2 separate regions of the Homo sapiens genome follow, and region 2 is linked to region 1. Evidence: fine-mapped expression QTL. A gene starts in region 1. The other region holds a variant in brackets. All regions are shown on one strand. Distances are between the middles of the regions. Region 1 holds the start of PTPRO (protein tyrosine phosphatase receptor type O). Region 2 overlaps PTPRO (protein tyrosine phosphatase receptor type O).

What was found. PIP is the estimated chance that this variant, and not a neighbour inherited with it, causes the effect.
Region 2: its variant is the best candidate, but not a certain one, in a credible set for the expression of PTPRO in blood mononuclear cells (TOPMed, PIP 0.71).

What each region holds. Positions count from the first base shown.
Region 1 is chr12:15,318,006-15,327,810 of GRCh38, reverse strand. It overlaps PTPRO (protein tyrosine phosphatase receptor type O), which reads right to left and starts at 5,303. Exons shown (of 27, transcript NM_030667.3): 1 at 5,010-5,303. The coding sequence starts at 5,084. All of the region lies in intron 2 of LOC105369673 (a long non-coding RNA gene), which reads left to right.
Region 2 is chr12:15,596,800-15,606,604 of GRCh38, reverse strand. PTPRO (protein tyrosine phosphatase receptor type O) reads right to left here. Exons shown (of 27, transcript NM_030667.3): 27 at 8,274-9,805. Among named protein-coding and RNA genes, the nearest start is that of EPS8, 190 kb to the left of the region's middle. The variant C/A (reference allele first, on the strand shown) is at 5,534.

The DNA of each region.
Region 1 (9,805 bases):
TGCTGGAGTCAACAGCACCAGGAGAGAAGGAACCCATTCACACTCATCCCAATCCATTCACACTCTTGCTCACTTTACTTGAGCCACATTAACCTTGTTTGGGTTCCTCAAATCAATGACACCAGCGCACAAAAAAAACTTACATATTTATTTGAGCAAAAAGAGCTGATATAATGGGTATTTAAGATGACTATAGAAGAGTTCTGTAAGAAATTGGGTTATACGACCTTGGATTAAACACTACCATAGGGATAACCAAGACCAGGGTGTAGAAAATACTTCATCTCTTAAGGGTGATGTCTGACAAAACATTAGGAGGATTTCTACTAGGAACACAGAAATCTTGGTCAGTTCTGGTTGGTTGTGGTCATAGCGGAGTGGTGATGTGGAAGAGGAGGCAAAAATATTACCTGTATATCTGGGTACTAGCTGAAATTGTAGGTCACCCATACAGGTTAAAAAAATCAATTTCCCCTAGTATGTCATTTGCTACTTTTTAATTAATAACATTAAACAGAGGTGAGGTAACATTAATGAATAAATGAGCAACTGAGAATATTACATTTCTGGGAAAAATAACTGATATTTTAATTTATGGTTTTAATAAGATTCTAATATAAGTGATTGGTAAAATTTTTACTATTTGAATGTAATGAGTGCATTGTAGTTATGATTATTTAACTCCCATAATGATAATTTTCCTATATTTTCCTTAAAGATGTGTTCACAAGTCAATATTACAATATTTCATAATTCTCAGTCAGAGCTTTTATATAATGCAGAAAATTTAAATCTGTTTATTAACCTTCTATTAAATTCCTAACACCACATACTAGCACCATGAAAGATAGAAATATTACAGTAGACATTCCTTTATTTCAAAAATATTTACAACATATTTGGAGTAATTAAATGAAAACATTAAGTGCTTTACAGTAAAGCTCATCACTGCACTGGGATATGTTTCTGAAAATGCAACATCACTGAAACTGTGTACGGAGAGGCATTAAATTAGGGGAAAATGAAAACTTGTGGTCATTGTTGTTAAGCCTTCTATTGTGCCACACTGCTACCAATTACAATGTTTTACTTAAGTGCATCAACTGTATCTGACATCAAACATTCTTTTACAACCCCTCAAGTTAGAATTATATTTATAAGGTTCAGGAGTAAATCTGCTTATACGTTTAAATACCTTTAAGTTGGATATTTAGATAGTAGAAATAGTGTTACATTTTAAAATAAAGTACAACTCATATTGTTTTTAATCAGTTATCCACATAAATGTGCATTTTCTTTTGGGCCAAAATGAGGCAGAGGTGTAATGTGAATTTTTCATTCCTTCACACAACGATAGTCTCTCACAAAACAAAGAACAAAAGGAAACATATGTTCACAGTGGGAAGGATTATTACTCGATCATCTGTAGAAGCATGGCCCAGGGAGCCTTTGCCAACCTACTGGGGATGTCACATGTAAAAAGGTTTCTCCAAAAGGTTGGCAATATGATTTATTAAAGGAGTCAGATGACATGGGAGTTAAGGGCAGCAAACTTCATTGTGATGGAAAGGATCTAAGCTGCTCCAGCAAAATGAAAGGATTATGGTTCACCTGCCAACACTGTGCAATTTATGGATGAAACCTCAACCACGAAAAGTGAAACTTCTTTGTGTGTGTGTATGGGGTTGCGAGGGGAGACATAGGAAAGGAAAGGCAGACAGACCGTGGAAAACAGATATTTCCCCTGGATAAGAGTAGAATGGCCAGTATCATAACACTCATGTATTATAGAATTAAATATAAACCTGTTTCAGAAAGTACAATATTAAGACCCTTTTTAAATTTGATATTCTTTGATGATATCTCTGGTAAAAGCAGAAATAGAAAGAAATAGAGAGAAGGGGTTAAAAAAGAAGGACACACGCCAAGCACTTGAGTTTAGGAATATATTCCAGCTGACTACTAAAAAGCAACATTTCAGGGAAGGCCAACTTCAAATTCCTATGATGTCATATTCCACGATTTGCACCTTAGTAGACAAAGTACTTATACTGAGTAAACTGATACAGGAAGACATTTTCTAGGAGGGCTTTAGTAAAGATAGGACAAGTGTAGGAAGTTACATTTCTTTCACTGGGAATTATGGGAAGACACACAACAGCGAGGCTCGCCAGATAAATACCTCACTTGCATTCATCCATAGAAGACTTTGAAATTAGTAGCCTTCAATATAATAACAGAGTTCCATTTTTTCTTCTATTTTATATACACCATCAATATTGATATAAAAATAAAAATTTTCATAACCAACATTGTGTTTAGGCAAGATAAATTATGCAGATATTAGCTTCATAATGTGCAGTGAATGATTTAGACAGTCTGAGATGCCCGATTATATGTGCTCATCACTGCTCCATGGATAAGGAACGATGGCACAAAGACCTTCTTGGCCAGTCACATTTAGTCTCCCTCAATGGAACTGATTATAGCCATTCATACACATTCAAACTTTCCTACTTTTCCACCACTGATATCCAGCTGCTTATTTTTGAGTTGTGGAAAATGTAAAGCTGTAAATTAAGCCTCATACTTGAATTTCTCTGTCTTATTTTCCTTCAGAATTTTCACTCTTATATAAAGGATACACATATGGAGTAGTGAAAAATGTATTAACTATAGTGAAAACTATGGAAATTATTTTGGCAAGGGAGAGTTGAGAGAATGTTTCATTTCTGACTCGGCACACGTGGAACATTTTGGATTTTATTATTGAGATACAGTTAGCAGTTTGGTATTTAATAATGAATTTTTTCTCATCCTCCAGTCACAACCTGCTTGAGTAGATCTGTTTTACTGGCACTTAATCAGGACCTTTAATTCAAAAATATCTCCAAATTATAAAGAGATTATACCATGTGCCCAACGCACCATGTAATATACTATCCTCTAAATGTAAGATATTACACTGTGTGCCCAATTTACCATTTTTTTTGAACAACTCTTGTCAACTGCAGCAAAATAGGATTAAATGAAATAACGTATGTAAAATGCCTAAAAAACCAGCACATAGAAGGTATTTAATATATACAGTTTTTTCTTCTTTCCTCTGATATAGTTTATATTCAGGTGACAAAAATATTACATTCACATAAAATAAAGGAAAATGATTTTTCTTACAAAATTATGTGTCCCACTACAATAATTATTATTTAAATGGCAAACTTTGCCAATGTATTTACTATGGAAGCAGTTTGCCATAATTTACATTTACCTGCAATGTTCAGGAATATACCTATTATGTGAAGCAGGCTGGACCTCTATGACAATCACTAACATTTTCATTACACCATCACTAACTGCATTTTCTCATTCCAATATCGAGTTTTAAGTCAAACAATGGCCACATTTATTTTATTTTAATTGCAAAACCTTACCCCCACTCCCAACCAAGTCATTCTCTTATTTCTGGAATTATCTCATTATGAAGAACTCACGCAAAAACCTGCAGTTGTGCTAAACGTTAGGTTTGGATCAGATGTCATACATATAACTCTTAGCTGTTGCTCGTAAAATGCATAGTGACTTGGTTTCTAATTTTTGGTTCATGACAATTATTGCATAGGTAAAATAGTTGTGACAGTTTGATAAATAGTTAGAAAACGACTAATAGACAACCTAATAAGTCTAATGCATTTATGATGTGTATGAAAGAACAACCTCCTACAGTAAAAACATATAACTGAGCTTATTATTTACCATACTTTAAAATTAATGATTATTGATAATTTAAGAAAAAATGTTAAAACATATTAAATATATTTTAAGGTCTTACTTAGGCATTCTGTTGCTGTTTCTCCCTGAATTTTTTTTATATTTTTCATTAAGATAAATGAAAATATGGAGTATTTAAAAGTAATGCTGTTCTTAATCCATTGGTCCTGTTCCATTATATTCTTTTTAGGCATTCATAATTAATGGTGCATATAAGCAAGAAGTGACTCTATAATAAGAAAACCTTTGGATCCATTAACCTGGCATCCATTTCTAGGGAAGGTATCACTGTGGTCCTGAAAGGATAGCTCCAAGTCACCTGTCGACATTCTTGAGTTTGCTTTGCGGAGAGAGGAAAAGACTAACAACAGAACTAAAGTAGATCCACTGAAGACATGAGTGATAGACAATCACTTCAGAACTTCACATCGCCGTCCAAGAAAACATCTAGCTGACATTTCTTCAAAAAAATTTATGTACAGTATAGTTGTCAAACTGATTTTTCAAAAGCAACTCCTTTGCTTTTCATTTTTCTCAAAGTAAAACCTCAGGGTAGCACATTCCAAAGAAGATACGAAAAAGTTTATTATTATATATTTTTCCACCATTAAATCTAGGGGTAATATCATCTGTAAATATAGTGGAGAAAGTCTGGAGACTTTTTAAAAGGAATTGTAAAGATGTTGATAGGAGTTGGGGAGAGGAATCCTTACCAAGCTCTCTACCTGACACTCCTTATTCAAAGAAAATTCTGCCCTAACGTAGCCCTGGCAGTCCATTTGTGTCCAGGGAGCTCAGTCCCCCTCCACTCTCCAGTGTATAATTCCAGCAGTAAGGAAAATTAAGACAAAGCATTCTGTGCGAGGGAGGGCGGAAAGGTTAAGCAGCGTTGGGGTGCAGTGGAAACCAGAAAAGAAAGTGACCTCATTTTGCCTGAGAAAGCACGATCCAACAAGCCCACCTTTGATGTGGATTTCAGCAGCGATAAAAGAGCACAAAGGGCGAAAGCCGGAGGGAGCAAACTTCCCTTATTCTTCCCCCCGCCCCCTACCTCTCAAGACCACCAGGAACACGCACACGCGAGGACAACAAAGCGTGCGCCCAGGCTGCACGGCAGGCGCTTCCCGCGGCTGGGCCATCGTGCCCTGGGGCGCGCCGCTCCCAACGGCAGAGCGAGGGCGCCGGAGCGCGGCTGCCGCCCGGACCGCTGGGAAAAAGGGGTGGAGGAGCTCCCCTACCTTGAACAGCACAAAGAGCCAGAGCAGAGGCAGGAGGCGGCGGGCGCCGTGTATCCCCGTGGGCAGGTGCCCCATCGCTGCGCGGACGGGGACTCGGGGGCACGGCTGCGCTAGCGGACTCCCCCGGCGGCGGCTCACAATGGCGAACTGGGGCTGCAGCCTCAGACCCTGGGCGCCGAGGTTGCTCCTGGCGAGCGCATGCTGCCTTTCCAGTCCCCCTGCGCCTGCTCCCTTTCCTCCTCTGCGCCCGGGGTCCTCCAAGAACGTGCCAGGCGCTGCTGTTCTTTAATGACTAAGGATGGAGAGGGTGGGGATTGGAGTGGGCGAGGCTCTGCCGCCGCCACCACCGCGGCTGCCAGAGGAGGCGCGGGGTCTGTGTGGTGAGCGAGAGGCGGGGACCCCGCGCCCAGCCCGCCGTAGTCCTCTGGCAGCAGGGACACTCTCACTCTGGCTGCCGACCCATAAAATGACAGCAGCCTCCCAACCCTCCACCAGGATCGGCCCGCTGCTTGCTACTGCTGGACAGCCCCCATTGCAGACTCCGCCTCAACCCCTCCCTCAATCTCTGGGTCTCAGGAGTTCTGAGGGGTTTCCCTGACCTCTCTTGAGCAATCCAGGCGCCAGATCCCAGTTCCCTCTCAATCTTCCTACATCTGTACTCAATTGCAGTTATAAAGGATCAATAACAGTTGGGTAGTTGTGACTGTAGAAATAGTGTGTAGTGTGAGTGTGTGAGTGTGTGTGATAGGAAGGGTATTTTCTCTCCTTCCCCACTGCTTCCATTATCTCCATCCCATTTCAACACTCTCACCGTCTCCGTCCCACACTCACCCAGGAACAAATAGCACAATTATGCACCTTTTCCATTTGAAATCCGCAGTTCTTGTACATTTCAGATTCTCTTTTGATACCAAAGTGTGTCGGGTCACCTGAAGCTGAATATAGAAGGGGGAAAAATCACAGTATTTTACATGTATGACCCTTGAACAACACGGGTTTGAACTGTTGGGTCCAGTTATATGCAGATTTTCTTCCACCTTTGCCAGCCTTGAGACAGCAAGACCAAACCCTCTTCCTCCTCCTCTGCCTGCTCAGCCTGAAAAGGATGACGTTAAAGACTTTTATGATAATTCACTTCCACTCAATGAATATAAATGTATTTTCTCCTCTTTATGGTTTTCTTAATAATATTTTCTGTTCTCTAGCGTACTTTATTGTAAGAATACAGTATACAATACATACAACACAAAATGTGTGTTAATCAACTGTTTATTATGTTATCAGTAAGGTTTCCGGTCAAGAGTAGGCTATTAGTAGTTAAGGTTTTGATGAGTTCAAAGTTATATGTGGATTTTCAACTACGTGATTCTCTGTGTTGTCCAAGTGTCAACGGTATGTACAGTTATATTTTTAAACAATTATCTGTGAATAATTTTACTGGGATGTTTTAGAATCACAAGCAACGACTTTCAAGCTGTGGGTCCCCAATCTACTACTTGTCTCCTTTTTTGTTATGTGTATTTTTTTAAAGATAAGTCTGTCGAAATCAACTCTGGTATGCACTGTTCAGATAGAAATCATTTCTTATTGTCATGTAAATTACCCTTGCTGTGCCCTGTCAGTATTGGAACTTATTTATACCTGAGACATGCTTGGGCAACAGGAGACAGGAAAGGCCACCCTGGTCATGAATGTAGGTGTTCAGGCATAGACTTTGTCAGTCACACAGCTAGGGAGTGGTGGCCTGAGAAAAGGATCCAGAGCTGTGTTTACTCAGCTTTTGCTGCATGAGCAATGGCCAAACACTAATCATTTGGTTGTTGTTTGTATGTGTCTTAAGGAAGCTTTAGATTGAATATGTTTACATAAGTGTGAATATGTATATATACACATGTGTACATGTACACATATGTGTACATGTACATATGTGTACACACATGTGTGTGCATGTACATATGTGTACACATATGTGTGTGCATGTACATATGTGTGTACACATATGTGTATGTGTGTACATAGATACATATGTGTATGCATACGTATATGTATATGTACGCATATGTATATGCATGGTACATATATGTATATATGTACCAAATTTCATATGCATGAAATATGTACCAAAATTCATATGCATGAAAATATAGAATGATGGTCTGAATTTTTGTGAGAATATTATCCTTGGTGTCTTCTTTTAGAAGCTTCTTTTGTTTTCACATTCCCATCACATGCTCTCTTCAGGTCCCTCATGTCCACTCATCATTGGTTTGGACATTTTCTTTCTTTTGAGAAAATGTTAACTGCTCCTCCCTCCCTCTGGGTTAGACTTACGGGCTATCTGAACATTTAATCCTTGGGATTGCACTTATAGGAACTTTGGTTTAATATGTTTTCTTTTTATTTTGACGCTCCTGAAGCAGCATTTTATTCCCACTCGCCCTCAGAAGTGGCTGTAAAGTGATCTAATCTCTAGAACATAAGATATATATAGGCCAAGGGCAACAATCACACTCACAGGATGCCAACAATTTCTCTTTGGAGTAGCATTTAATTTTAAAATGTGTCTGTGAATTATGGGTCTGTATGATGATATTCATTTGTGTGTATGCATATGTCTGTGTGTATACATGGATATAGCCTTGCCTGATGTGCGTAGGGCGTTTAAAGCAGTTCTGATCATAAATTAATCTTGTAAATGCTAAAAGAACTTTCACAATGAGGCTCCCTTTTAAATAATCATATTCTGCTGCGTCTTTCTGTTTTTCTCTTAGTCATACATCACAATTTGTTCAGCTCTTTCTGTCTTTGTGCATATATATATATATGTATATATATATATATATATATATATATTATGTGGACCACTTTGGAGGAACAATAACAGTAAACAGTAAGTAGTAAAGCATTAGTAATTGGCATTGTTGTTATTTTATTAGTAACATTGTGGTTAGATGGGCTGAAGACTGAAAGTATTATTTTATAATCACAGAAAATTTCCTCTCTAGAGAAAAGTATTTTACATTGCTATTGCTGGATAAAATACTTTCATTTGTTTTTATTGCACTTAAACCATAACAGTGTCCTAGAAGAGATTCTCATAAAGAATGTGAATGCTGTGTCATCCACAGTGTGGGGTTTTCAATTCATAGAGCATGTTTTGTGTTTCTTTGAGCTATTGACTGGTTTTTCAATACAATACTTCCAAAGTATGATAAATCTTATTATGCTATTTTCAAGACTCCAAATCAACAAAACAGCCAGGGGCAACATACAGTGCATATAGTAATTTATGTTTCACCAATTGCTTCTACATATTGGTCCAGATTTCATTATGACAACCACATTGTTAGGTAAAGAAGGCTGAGATCATTATCACCAACTGTTTTCCCCTAATGCTACTTTTCCTGGAGAAAAAATAAACACAGAAAAATAATAATATCTCTGACATGCCATAAAACAAGCATTGAAAAATAAGTTCTCACAAATTGAAATAAAGCTCTCTACTTCCTTTGAAAATTATAAAAAGGTGGTTAATGATCATGAAACTGGAAGGTCTTTTTAAAATCTATAGGAGGCTTAGTTTTTACCAAGAAAAGCGATCTTTTCCTAAATATGTAGAAATGTATCTTTGCCTACGTGGTTCACATCTATCTCTTCTATAGAAAAGCAAGCGCAGACACAGAGAAGCAGCTAGAATCCCTGTGAGAGGTTTAATGAGGAGTCAAATGGAACTCTTACGGTGCCCTTGCCAATGAAGCTCAATTCTGTCCTCCAGGGACAACCTCTAATGTAGTTGAGTGTGTTTAGTCCTGGCTTCCACTACTGAAATAGCCTACAAGGCTGTCAGCAGTTTCAGTATTAGATAATTGTATTTATGGGGGATGCTCAATGACAAATAATTTACTTTATATGGAATAGAAAGAAAAATTCAAGCAATTGTTCTCTAGACTCTATTCCATTGGAAAAGTAATAGCCATTCAGTTTGTTGTCCATATCTCACATGTTACAATTTTTATAGCATATGAACTGTAGATTATCTGTATTAAGCTCTTGGAAGAAAATGACCAGGAAGCATTTTGATTTTCTATTTATTTGAGCATTTGTTTTAATTTTTTCTCTTGATGAGCACTGGTTTCTCACCTAAATGATGTGTTGACAATTCATAAGTTTTGTGTCTTTCAAAATGAGAACGATTGACAGCCCTCAGGTGAATGGCATGTTCCAACTGCCAAGACTTATTACTCTTGCTGCACTTGAAAAACAGTGGAAATACGCTAAAGAAGGTCATTTTTGCTTTTACTTGGAGAGTCTTTTCCCATTATATTCCCCTCTCCCGCCGCAAAAGATTCCTATTAAGAGACCTATCTTACTTGTACTTGACTCTTACATGTCTTAAAGAAAATCAAATAAGAATATTGCATTACAAGATATGTCTTACAACACAAAATTATATACTTAAAGAAATAAGGAAACATACATAGAAAGTGTGAGCAGATATGCAGATATATATCACTGGACACAAATTACAGGCTATAGGATAAACAGCCCTACATTAGAAATGCAGATTGTCGTGTTTTTAGATATTATACCTTCATTCAGTCATATACTAGGATTCTGTTTGTTGCTAGCATTTCATTTAATTGCTCTAAAACTTTAATAAAAGGCATTAGCCTTAAGTTATATGATTTTATCTCATATTTTATTTATATGAAATGCCTTGACTAATGAACTTCTAAAATATTTTTTCTGAATGTTCCAGACATTGCTATCATTTACTAATTTAGCTTTTCTTCATA
Region 2 (9,805 bases), 280 kb before region 1:
GTGAATTGGAGGAAGATGTGGCTATTACGTGCTCTGAGAGAACTAAGGTCCCGGATGTGGATTTCTGTATGAACTGGTTATCTTAACAGTTGAAATGCCTTCGAAAGAGCTTTGGGCACATCACCTTGAGCTTGGTGCTGGAAGGAGGTGTGCGATGAGCCAGGACTGCTGAGGGGCCCAGATGGTCCTGGTCCAGGCGGCTCTCACGGCTCTTTCCTTCCTGACTGTAGTCCCAGGCAGTTGGCCCAATTCCTGCTCCATTTCTGGGCTGCCTCGGGTGGGAAAGCTCTGCATATGGAGTAGAATATAATTTCCCCATGTTCAATCATTCCTGTTTCCTCCAAAAATGAAATGAAGGCCCTTTCAGCCCATGGAAAAATGGAATAAAGCACACATGCATACACACACACACACACACGCACACGCACACGCACACACAAACTGGCCAGAAATTGAAATCTCTAGATCTTTCACAGTTTGTCCTGTTTCATTGTTTCTTACTCTGAACTGGTACCATATGACAAGGCCTTCTGCCCTCCCATCTATTCTAAGGAAAGGGAAACAGGAACTGAATTCATGTGTGCTGAGCACTTTCACATATATCCCACTTTATAAGAGAGGAAATTGAAACCCAGATAAGTTAGGTAGCTTGTAAAAGATTACAAAGTGGACAACTGAATTTGGACTCAATTTCTTGGACTTCTATATATCATGCAAACTTTTTTTCTCTCATGTATTATATAGGTCAGTGTATACAACAATTTAAGCAGAAAAAGCACTTTTTTAAAAAATGAAATTTTATATAGTATGCCTCCATATAACACAGGTAAAATCAGCACTGAAGATGCAGAGAGGAGTCCGGGAGCTTTATTTGGAAATCTCTGGACCTTGGAACTCCAGGTCCCATGAAGGCCCTTGCGGGTGGACATGAAGGTAGACTGGACAGTGGTTGTTCCAGGCAGCAGTTGAACCAGGAGATATAATTCTCAGTTGCAAAGGTCATTTGCATCTGTGGGGAATTTCAGATGACTGACCACCTCCTCAAAGCGCTATTTTGTTTAGATAGAAAAATTAGCTTTGGACGTTCTCTCATAGGTCCACATTTATGCTTTGGAATCGACATTACATAAAATACCAAGAAATCAGGGCAAAAATTACTGGATCTTAGTCTCAACCCTGCTCGTAATAGCCAGGCCCAAACTAGGAGTAGATATACATTTGCTTCAAGTTAATCTGTGGTGTGGTTTATTCAGTAAACACAACGACAGTGTCCTCTCCAGCTCTTAGGAGGTATGTGGGAAAAGGATTGATTTGTCTTTCACTAGTGAAGGAACCTAGCAGCAGAGCTATTGGAACATAGGCTAAAAGAGGCTAAGACAGGTGCCATGAGCTGTTGCTAGCTCATAAAATATAGCTCTTCTGAGATCACACCACTGCACTCCAGCCTGGGCGACAGAGCGAGACTCTGTCTCATACACACACACAAAATACAGCTCTTTGCAAGGTAAGCAGGTCATGGTGTTAATAGCCTGTAGCAACCTCGTATCTTGCAGTATATAAGTAAGGGCGCACTTTTTATTAGGAAAACAGCACAGGGAAGTTAGTCTATTGCCTCATCTCCAAAACCAATCTTATTATAGGATGGAATTTGGAAGTCTGGGTAATTTGTTTCATTTGCATTGCAGCAAATGGAAAAAAAAAGAATGAGAAAATGACTATTGTTATACCTTGGTGACAGCGCAGTGGATTTACAGAACGCAAATTAAAACAGATATCTGAAATTGCCTGGATGCTTCCAAATTCTTTTATTATTTTTTCCAACTGAGTTTTCCACCCCAATATGTGACATGTATGTGCAAACAAAACTTCTGCCTCTTTTTTTTTTTTTGACGGAGTTTTGCTCTGTCGCCCAGGCTGGAGTGCAGTGGCGTGATCTCGGCTCACTTCAACCTCTGCCTCCTGGGTTCAACCGATTCTCCTGCCTCACCCTCCCGAGTAGTTGGGACTGCAGGCATGCACCACCACGCCCAGCTAATTTTTTTATATATATTTTTAGTAGAGACGCATTTTCACCATACTGGCCAGGCTAGTCTGGTGTTGAACTCCTGACCTCAGGTAATCTGCTGGCCTTGGCCTCCCAAAGTGCTGGGATTACAGGAGTGAGCCACTGCGCCTGGCCAAACCTCTGCCTCTTACGGGAGCTGCTGACTCCAAGTGTGGCAGCACTTCATGGGTTGGGTTGTTACTGCTGCTCTGGGAGCTGACCTTGTGTAGGGGGCATGCTCATGCTAAGGGCGCCCATGTGGGACTGAGAAATCAAAGGGGCACACTCACTCTGTAGATGTCTTGGTACTGAAAGGAGTAGGTGGGTTTGGTGGCCTAAATGCACTAAGAGAGGGAGAGATTTGGAAATTTGAAGAATCATACTGCATTTATGCTATGCTGACTCTGCCAGGTTTTTGGCCGGTGCTTTACACAACCAGTTATAAGTTTTACCACAACTTGAAAACGTAGATATTATTTTTTTATTGTGGGAACACTTAGGCTGAGAAATAGTAGGTGACTTCTCAAGGCCACACTGCTAGTCAGCATAAGAGCACAGAGTTCTGTGACTCTGAAGACTATACTTTCTCAATTATGCCATTCTGTACCCTCAGACCACCAGGCACCATGCCAAGGGCTTTACATTTAATCCTCAGTGCAGCCCTGTGGAGGAGGCTCTTATTATTGCCATTAACAAACAAGGAAACCAGTTCACAGAGGGATTAAGTGGTGCTCACAAGCGGTGTCTGTTCACGCCAAGCATCTCTTCTTAACTTGACCCAGGCGTATGTACATATTAAGGTTTGTACAAATTGGCTGTCTTGTCTTAGAAGCAGTCAGCTCTCTAGATATAGTTTTAGTGCAAGGAATTTGTGCAGATTATCTGTACAGCTGCAGACATCTTCATGGAATGTAAATTAGGTGCTGACATTGCTTTTCTGGGAAACCCGCTAGCATAGATTACATACACTGGACATAAAACACACACATTGGTAATACATTTGCTAGTAAAGAATTGGAAATCCAGGCCTGGGAAATCCAGGACTCTTATCTGGAACACTAGCTTCTGCTTTTGCATCAAATGCCTATGACACAAGGTCATCCACATTGGGTCACAGACTATACCTCTTTTATATTCCAAGGTCTGTGACTGTGAGGGTAGCTGCCAGGGGAGGGGGTTCAGGTGTCACCCTGGAAAAACCCAGTCAGTCTAGGTCAGATACCAGCTTCAGATGCTCTTACCAAGTCTATTGAAGACTATCAGGATGGCCCTTAGAGACTGTGGGAGATTGGCTTGTAACAGGGTGGTATGTAATGTACTAAACTATTCCTGGTATTGTTTTCAGATCCTTACACATGTTATCTTCTGATGCCCTATGCAATGGACTGAATTTGCCCCCAAAATTCATATGTTGAAATCCTAATCCCTAATGTAATGATATTAGAAGGTGGGGCCTTTGGGAAGTAATTATATCATAAAGGTGGAACCTTCATGAATAGGATCAGTGCCCAGATAAAAGGAACCCCAGAGAGCTCTCTTGCCTTGTTTCTGCCATGTAAGCATACAAGAAGGCAGCTGTCTGCTACCCAGAAGAGGGCTCTCACCAGAACCGACCATGCTGGCATCTTGATCTTGGACTTACTGCCTCCAGAACCGTAAGAAATATTTAAAGCCACCTAGTTTATGGTGCTTTGTTACAGCAGCCCTGACTAAGACTCCCTATGTGAAAGCTACCATCAGGATGTCATTTCATAGATTAGATGACTGAGTTATATGTAGTCAGGAGCAGAGACTTAGCTCAAGCCTCTCTTCAACCACAGTCCCTTATTCTAAGCCCCTCTGCTCTGCTGTCCTGCTGGACCCTGTCCTGTGTCACTTCCCAAGTTCATTGGTTAAGGGGCAATATGATCTAATTTGGTTTTGGACATGAAGGAACCTTTCTAAGACCATCCTGTTTTATATTTATAAAGGATGTAGTGGTTACAGTTAACTTTTTCTAGTTTAAACTGCCCTTTGAACTTTTTGGTGCTCTTAGAACTGAACAAAAATATTTCGTGTCAGCTGGCTTTGAACTGTGACCATGGCCCTGGAACGCACCAGGACACGCACAAAATGTAAAGGATTGGGTTGCCCAGCATCACTCCAAACACCAAGCCTCATGGGCTCCTGTATGTGTGAGCTTTTGTTGATGTGAAACCACTTTGGGGTATATTGTTAATAGGAATCCAGGAGTCTGATTCAGAGGCAATGGCCTAGTGTAAGGGTAAGAAGTTCTAGTGGGTGTCCTGAGTCATGGTCTTATGATGGGGTGTGAAAAGCAATGACAACCAAAAGATCAGGAGAGATCTAACCTGGAGGAAAACAACTTATAAAGAAGAATTCATATATTTCTGTTAAAAAGTTTATTTATTAAAGGAACCATTATTGCTTTTGTGGCCTTTCCTGAACCCTTGTTTTGCATTGTGGGTTTACTTTGCTCTGCACTGCTTCATCTTTAACTGTCTTCTGGGAATTTTACTGGGCAGTCACACACCATTGCTCTGAAAACTTCCTATTGTAACTTAGATGGAACATTGTTGTAAAGGTTATCCTTGTGCTGCCATATTAGTTAAGGGCAGGTTGATTGCTGTAACTGACAATGACCAAGTTTCAGTGACAATGCAATAGAAATCTATTTCTTGATCACATAATGGGCCAATGCTACCAGATATCCCTGCCCCAAGTGGTGATTCAGGGACCCAGAGTCCTCCTATCTGTGGCACCACCATCTGTGTTGGGGTAGAGGAGAGGGAGAGAGAGAAAGAGACATACACACATTCACAGTCACACACACACAGAGAGAGAGAGACAAGAAAGAAGAGGGGTGGGGGAGGGTGGAATGGAAGGTTGCTCCTGGGTAATTTTCATGGTCCAGAGGCCAGGAAGCACACATTCCATTGCCCAGAACTCTGCAAAGGGTCTTGAAAAGTAGTCCCAGTATGCTCTGTTAGGTTTGCAGTAAGAGTAAATCCACTAGATTCTGCTGAGTGATACATGAGCTGGAGCTGTTTGTGGACATCTTAAGAGAAATGGTCCCCTTGGAAGGTGCCAAGAAGAATAGGTTCAGAAGGCAGGGTGGGAGGATTAGTCATCCATATGGGCCCCAGTGACTGATGCATACTGGGTGTTTCATGTTTGCTGAATGAGCAATGAATGTTCCTCTTTAGTATTGCTTAATGTGGCCCTATAGTTATTAGTACTTTAATATAGTAGTATAGTGTTTCCTGACCCTTCTAGAAAAAAAAGATCACCTATCCTTCCCTTGGACCTATATTGGATACTTTTTGTGTTTCTATCACGGTGTCTGTTACACTTTGTTGCCCTTATTTTTACTTCTGATTTCCCCTATTAGAATGTAAACTAGAAGCAAGAATCTTGTTGCATCCATCTTCATAGCCATAGCCCCTTCTACGGTGCCTGGCATGAAAGGTTCAATAAATAAATGATTTT[C/A]TTAGAAGGTTAGAGATTTACCATTTCTCAAATTGAATGTCTGCCCTCTATATTAAACACATTACCTGGAGATGAATCTATTAATTCCATCCTACTGCACTTTATCCATGCTAAGTATGAACGAGAAACAGCATGAAGTTGTGGGGGAAAAGGTTTAGGGCTGGGCAGAGCTGGCCGGGAATCCTGCTTCTGCCACTTTCTAACCCTGTAGTTGTAATTTAACTACGCTGCCTCTTCACCTTATTGTCTCTCAACTTCGTCACCTGGGAAATGAGTATTCTCACTTCCTAATGATGTTTTGAAGTTGAGGATATGAACATAAAGGGATTAGCACATTAGAAAGAAACCCCCATTGCTCCCTGAGTCAGGTGCCATCTCCTTTGCTGCCAAGTGAGAAGCCAGTCCGGTATTCAAAGCAGCCACAGAACCTGATCTTTTTTTTTTTTTTCCAAGATGGGGAAGTAGATTTGGGCTTCAAGCCTATGCCCATGAGGGGCACAGACTCATACATTCTTAATATTAGTAAGGTCCTTGGATGTGTAAACAAAAGAAAAAATGCTTTGCTACCTTAGAAGCAATTCCTCCCTCTAAAAGTGTTCTGTAGAAAAGAATTAGCCATCCACCAGGAACACGGTGGAGGAGACTCTTGTTATGAGCAGGAGGGCAGGACTAGTTTGGTGACTCTCATCAAGCAAGAGCGATCATGTCAGGCTTTCTAGTGGTTTATGAGTAAAAAAACAATGAACATTTGTTGTTTCTGTTATATAAGCCATTGAGGAAAATATTGAACATCATTAAATATGATGGCTGGTGAGTATGTCCAGAAGATATGTTGACGAAGTTTTGGAAGATATAAATAAAAATGTTGAAAAAGACTTGGCTAAGGCTTTCTTGAACATTCCAACAACAGTATTAAAACTGATTATATAGCCTATTTTTAAAAGCCTTCATATTTGTGCTTACCATAGGGCCTAGCATATTGCAAGTGGTCAAGAAACCTTAGATGGATTGATTGAGTGATTCCTACAATATGATTAGATAAACACACATTTGTTGACTGAGTGATTCAATAAATGACTTCCTTTACTCCAGATTTAATAGCCCCAGTTTTCCCAGGTTTTGTTATCATAACCTGTTATTTCTCCACATTTCCGGTGGTTCTAGTGACAATGTCTGGACAGCCTTCAGTCTGTTCATGACCCTCCTGTAATGCAACTCCCAGAGTTAAACCTTATACTTCATCTTTAATCCAGTGACCCACCAGGAAAAGGCCTTGTGATAATCACCAGATAAAACTAAAAGCAAAAAATCTTACTGTTCTGGAAGGCCAGGGGTCAGAGATGTCACAGCTGAAATTTCCTTCAAATGGTTCCAAATGAGGCTATTAAAAGTCAGGGGTGGAAGTCTGCAGGTTTTGCATGTTATATTTTGTTGCTTTATAACCCCTTTGGCCAAAGTGAATGTTATAATCAGCGATGGGCATGACTCTCAGACTTCATCGCTGTGCCAAGTACCAGACTAGAGATCTGTGAGCTAGGAAGCGAGCCAGCTATTTGAAGCACATTACATCAGACATTTCCTGAGGTGTAAAGGAAGGCCTCCTTGCTAGAAAGCAGGGAGAATTTTGGCTCTTAGAGGTTGGACTCAGTAACTTTAACTCCTTGGCTAAGGGCCAATCCTCTAGCAAGCAGCTATCAAGTAGCCTGCAGAAAATTCAAATCCAAAGCATCTGATCCTGCTTTGCCTGTTGACACCACAGCCTCATTTGAGAGCTGTGTCACCTTTTTGGGAGTAGGAACAGCTTTTAGGAAAGGAGAGACATTATAAAATCTGACATTAAAAAAAAGTAGTAACTTTTCTAGTTTTACATTTTGGAGGCAATGTTGTCTTTACAGTGGGAAATTGTAGACCCCGAATTAAAATGCTTTTCCAAAAAATGCTGTCATCCATCACTTTTTTCAAGTTAAACGAAATCATCATATGAAGTAATGGATATACTGCTGTCAACTATTACATTTATTAATTAGATCCTAATGGTAGTTTCTCAATTAACTTCATAAATTATCTTTTGCAGCCAAGGAATTTGATCTCAATAGCCCTCAAGGCCTGGTGTGGTGGCTCACACCTGTAATTCCAGCACTTTGGGAGGCTGAGGTGGGGGGGTCACCTGAGGTCAGGAGTTTGAGACCAGCCAGGCCAACATGGTGAAACCCTGTTTCTACTAAAAATACAAAAAATTCGCTGGGCGTGGTGGCACGCACCTGTAATCCCAGCTACTCAGGAGGCTGAGGCAGGAGAATCGCTTAAACCTGGGAGGTGGAGGTTGCAGTGAGCCAAGGTCACGCCATTGCATCAATACACCCCAGCCTGGGCAACAGAGAGAGGATCTGTCTCAAAAAAAAAAAGAAAAAAAAAATAGCACTCAAAATGAAATGTTTTGTAACGCTCAAGTTTTTAGATCTTTTTGTGTGCCATACAGGCTATTATGAACACATGCACTAAGGCCCCTGTGTTCTTTTAGAACAAAGCATTACTCAAATGAATTTTAAAAACCCTAGTTAATAATACAGAGGCTCTGGAAGCCTCCCTTCTGAATGCTTAAAGTTGGGTCCTGGTGTGGAAACAGAACTGGTTAGAGTAGCCTTACGGAACATACATGAGAGAACAAGACACAAAGCACCTTTGGGTCAATTATCGTATCTGATACTTCTTATACCTGTTGCAAGATATGGAGTTATGATTAGGTCATTCTTCAGTTTATTAACTGAGACCCAGGAGAGATAATTCCAAAGTCATTATCAGGATTAAACAAGTCTTTTGACAGACTGATGCCTTTTCCATCATAAACTCTACAAACTGAAGAGCAACAGTGTTCCAGAGAACAGTGTGACCTTCCTGTAGTTTTGACTCTAAGCCTTCAGTCTAAACTCTGGATACTTCCTCTTTCCTTTTGGGAAAATTGATCTGGCACTATTTGATCCCTACCTTGAAAGGGTGCTCAAGAAAAACATAAAATATTTATGAAGTGCTTTGTTTCATGGGAAGCAATGTTCCAGGATGCAAAACTTCTGTATGCTCTGAGCAGCAGTGTTGGAAACGTACTTCAGCTTACCATACATTGTATCAGCTCTTCCAAGGTTGCACATTTCACTCCTGACTGCCCATGTGTGAAAATCTAAGAATGTCACACATCCCTTTGCCACCTTTCATTAACCATGTTTGTTCCTGAGAATGGTGCGACACATTATTAAAATGTCCAAAAAGGGAAATAAAGGAGTCGGGGGTGAGAAGAAGAGGAGGAGGTGGTAGCAGGGAGGTGAGTAGGAACTGACAACCCCTGAGGAGCCCAAGCTGTTAACCTGCAGGGTATGGGCATCCTCTGCCATTCACCCTGCAAGGTGAAACTGAGACTCACTGGCCAGATCTTGCAAGAAACTCTGCCAAGGTCTGCCATGGCCAAGCCTTTTCAGTGACAAGAGACGGTGGGGTGCAGAGCTGTTCATTTGGCATCCTTCACCAACACTAAGGTCACTGATAAAATATTAAGCTGATCTTATATCTGTGGCTTCATGAAGATGATCAGGGATGGAGGGAAGCCAGGGAAGGGGCAGTGTCGGGTGCATGAAGAGGAGCAAAGCCTCCTGGAAGCACACACACGGAGGCTCACAATAGCCACAGTTGCCACAGGGAAGCAGCCAGCTTGTGTTTACTTTCAACTCAAAGTGTTTTCTGTTGTATATCCATGTCATCACCTCTTATTTATCAGGAAGTGACACAAAGTAACAGGCTTCACAATGCCATCAATGTCATTTTGACAGCATTCATGTCACAATACACAATCATGTACTGTAATTATACAAAATCCAAAGAATAAAATGTTACTAGTTACACTCGTTAAAATGAAACTGACAACCAAAAGAATAACAAAACAAAAAGAAATCTCTGTCAGAATCCATAGAGACATTTGACAATATTACAAAAAAAAGTAGTCAAATAATTGTCCCAGCATGCTGCAGTTCATTGCCATAACTTCATAAATTCCCAGCTCTTTGGGGGAAAGAAAGTGCGTTTTCACAGCCTATATAGTTCTTAAAGAAATAGCTCTCACATGTATGCAGGTCAACAGAACAAGGAATGCAAAGTCTAGGCACCACGATTGCTCAGACAGCAACAGAGTTCAAAGAGTCCAACTTGACACTCTTCTGAACCAGATGTGGTTTCTTGAGAAAGAACTTGGACAGTAACATTAGTCCAAAAGGGCCAAGGAAGAAA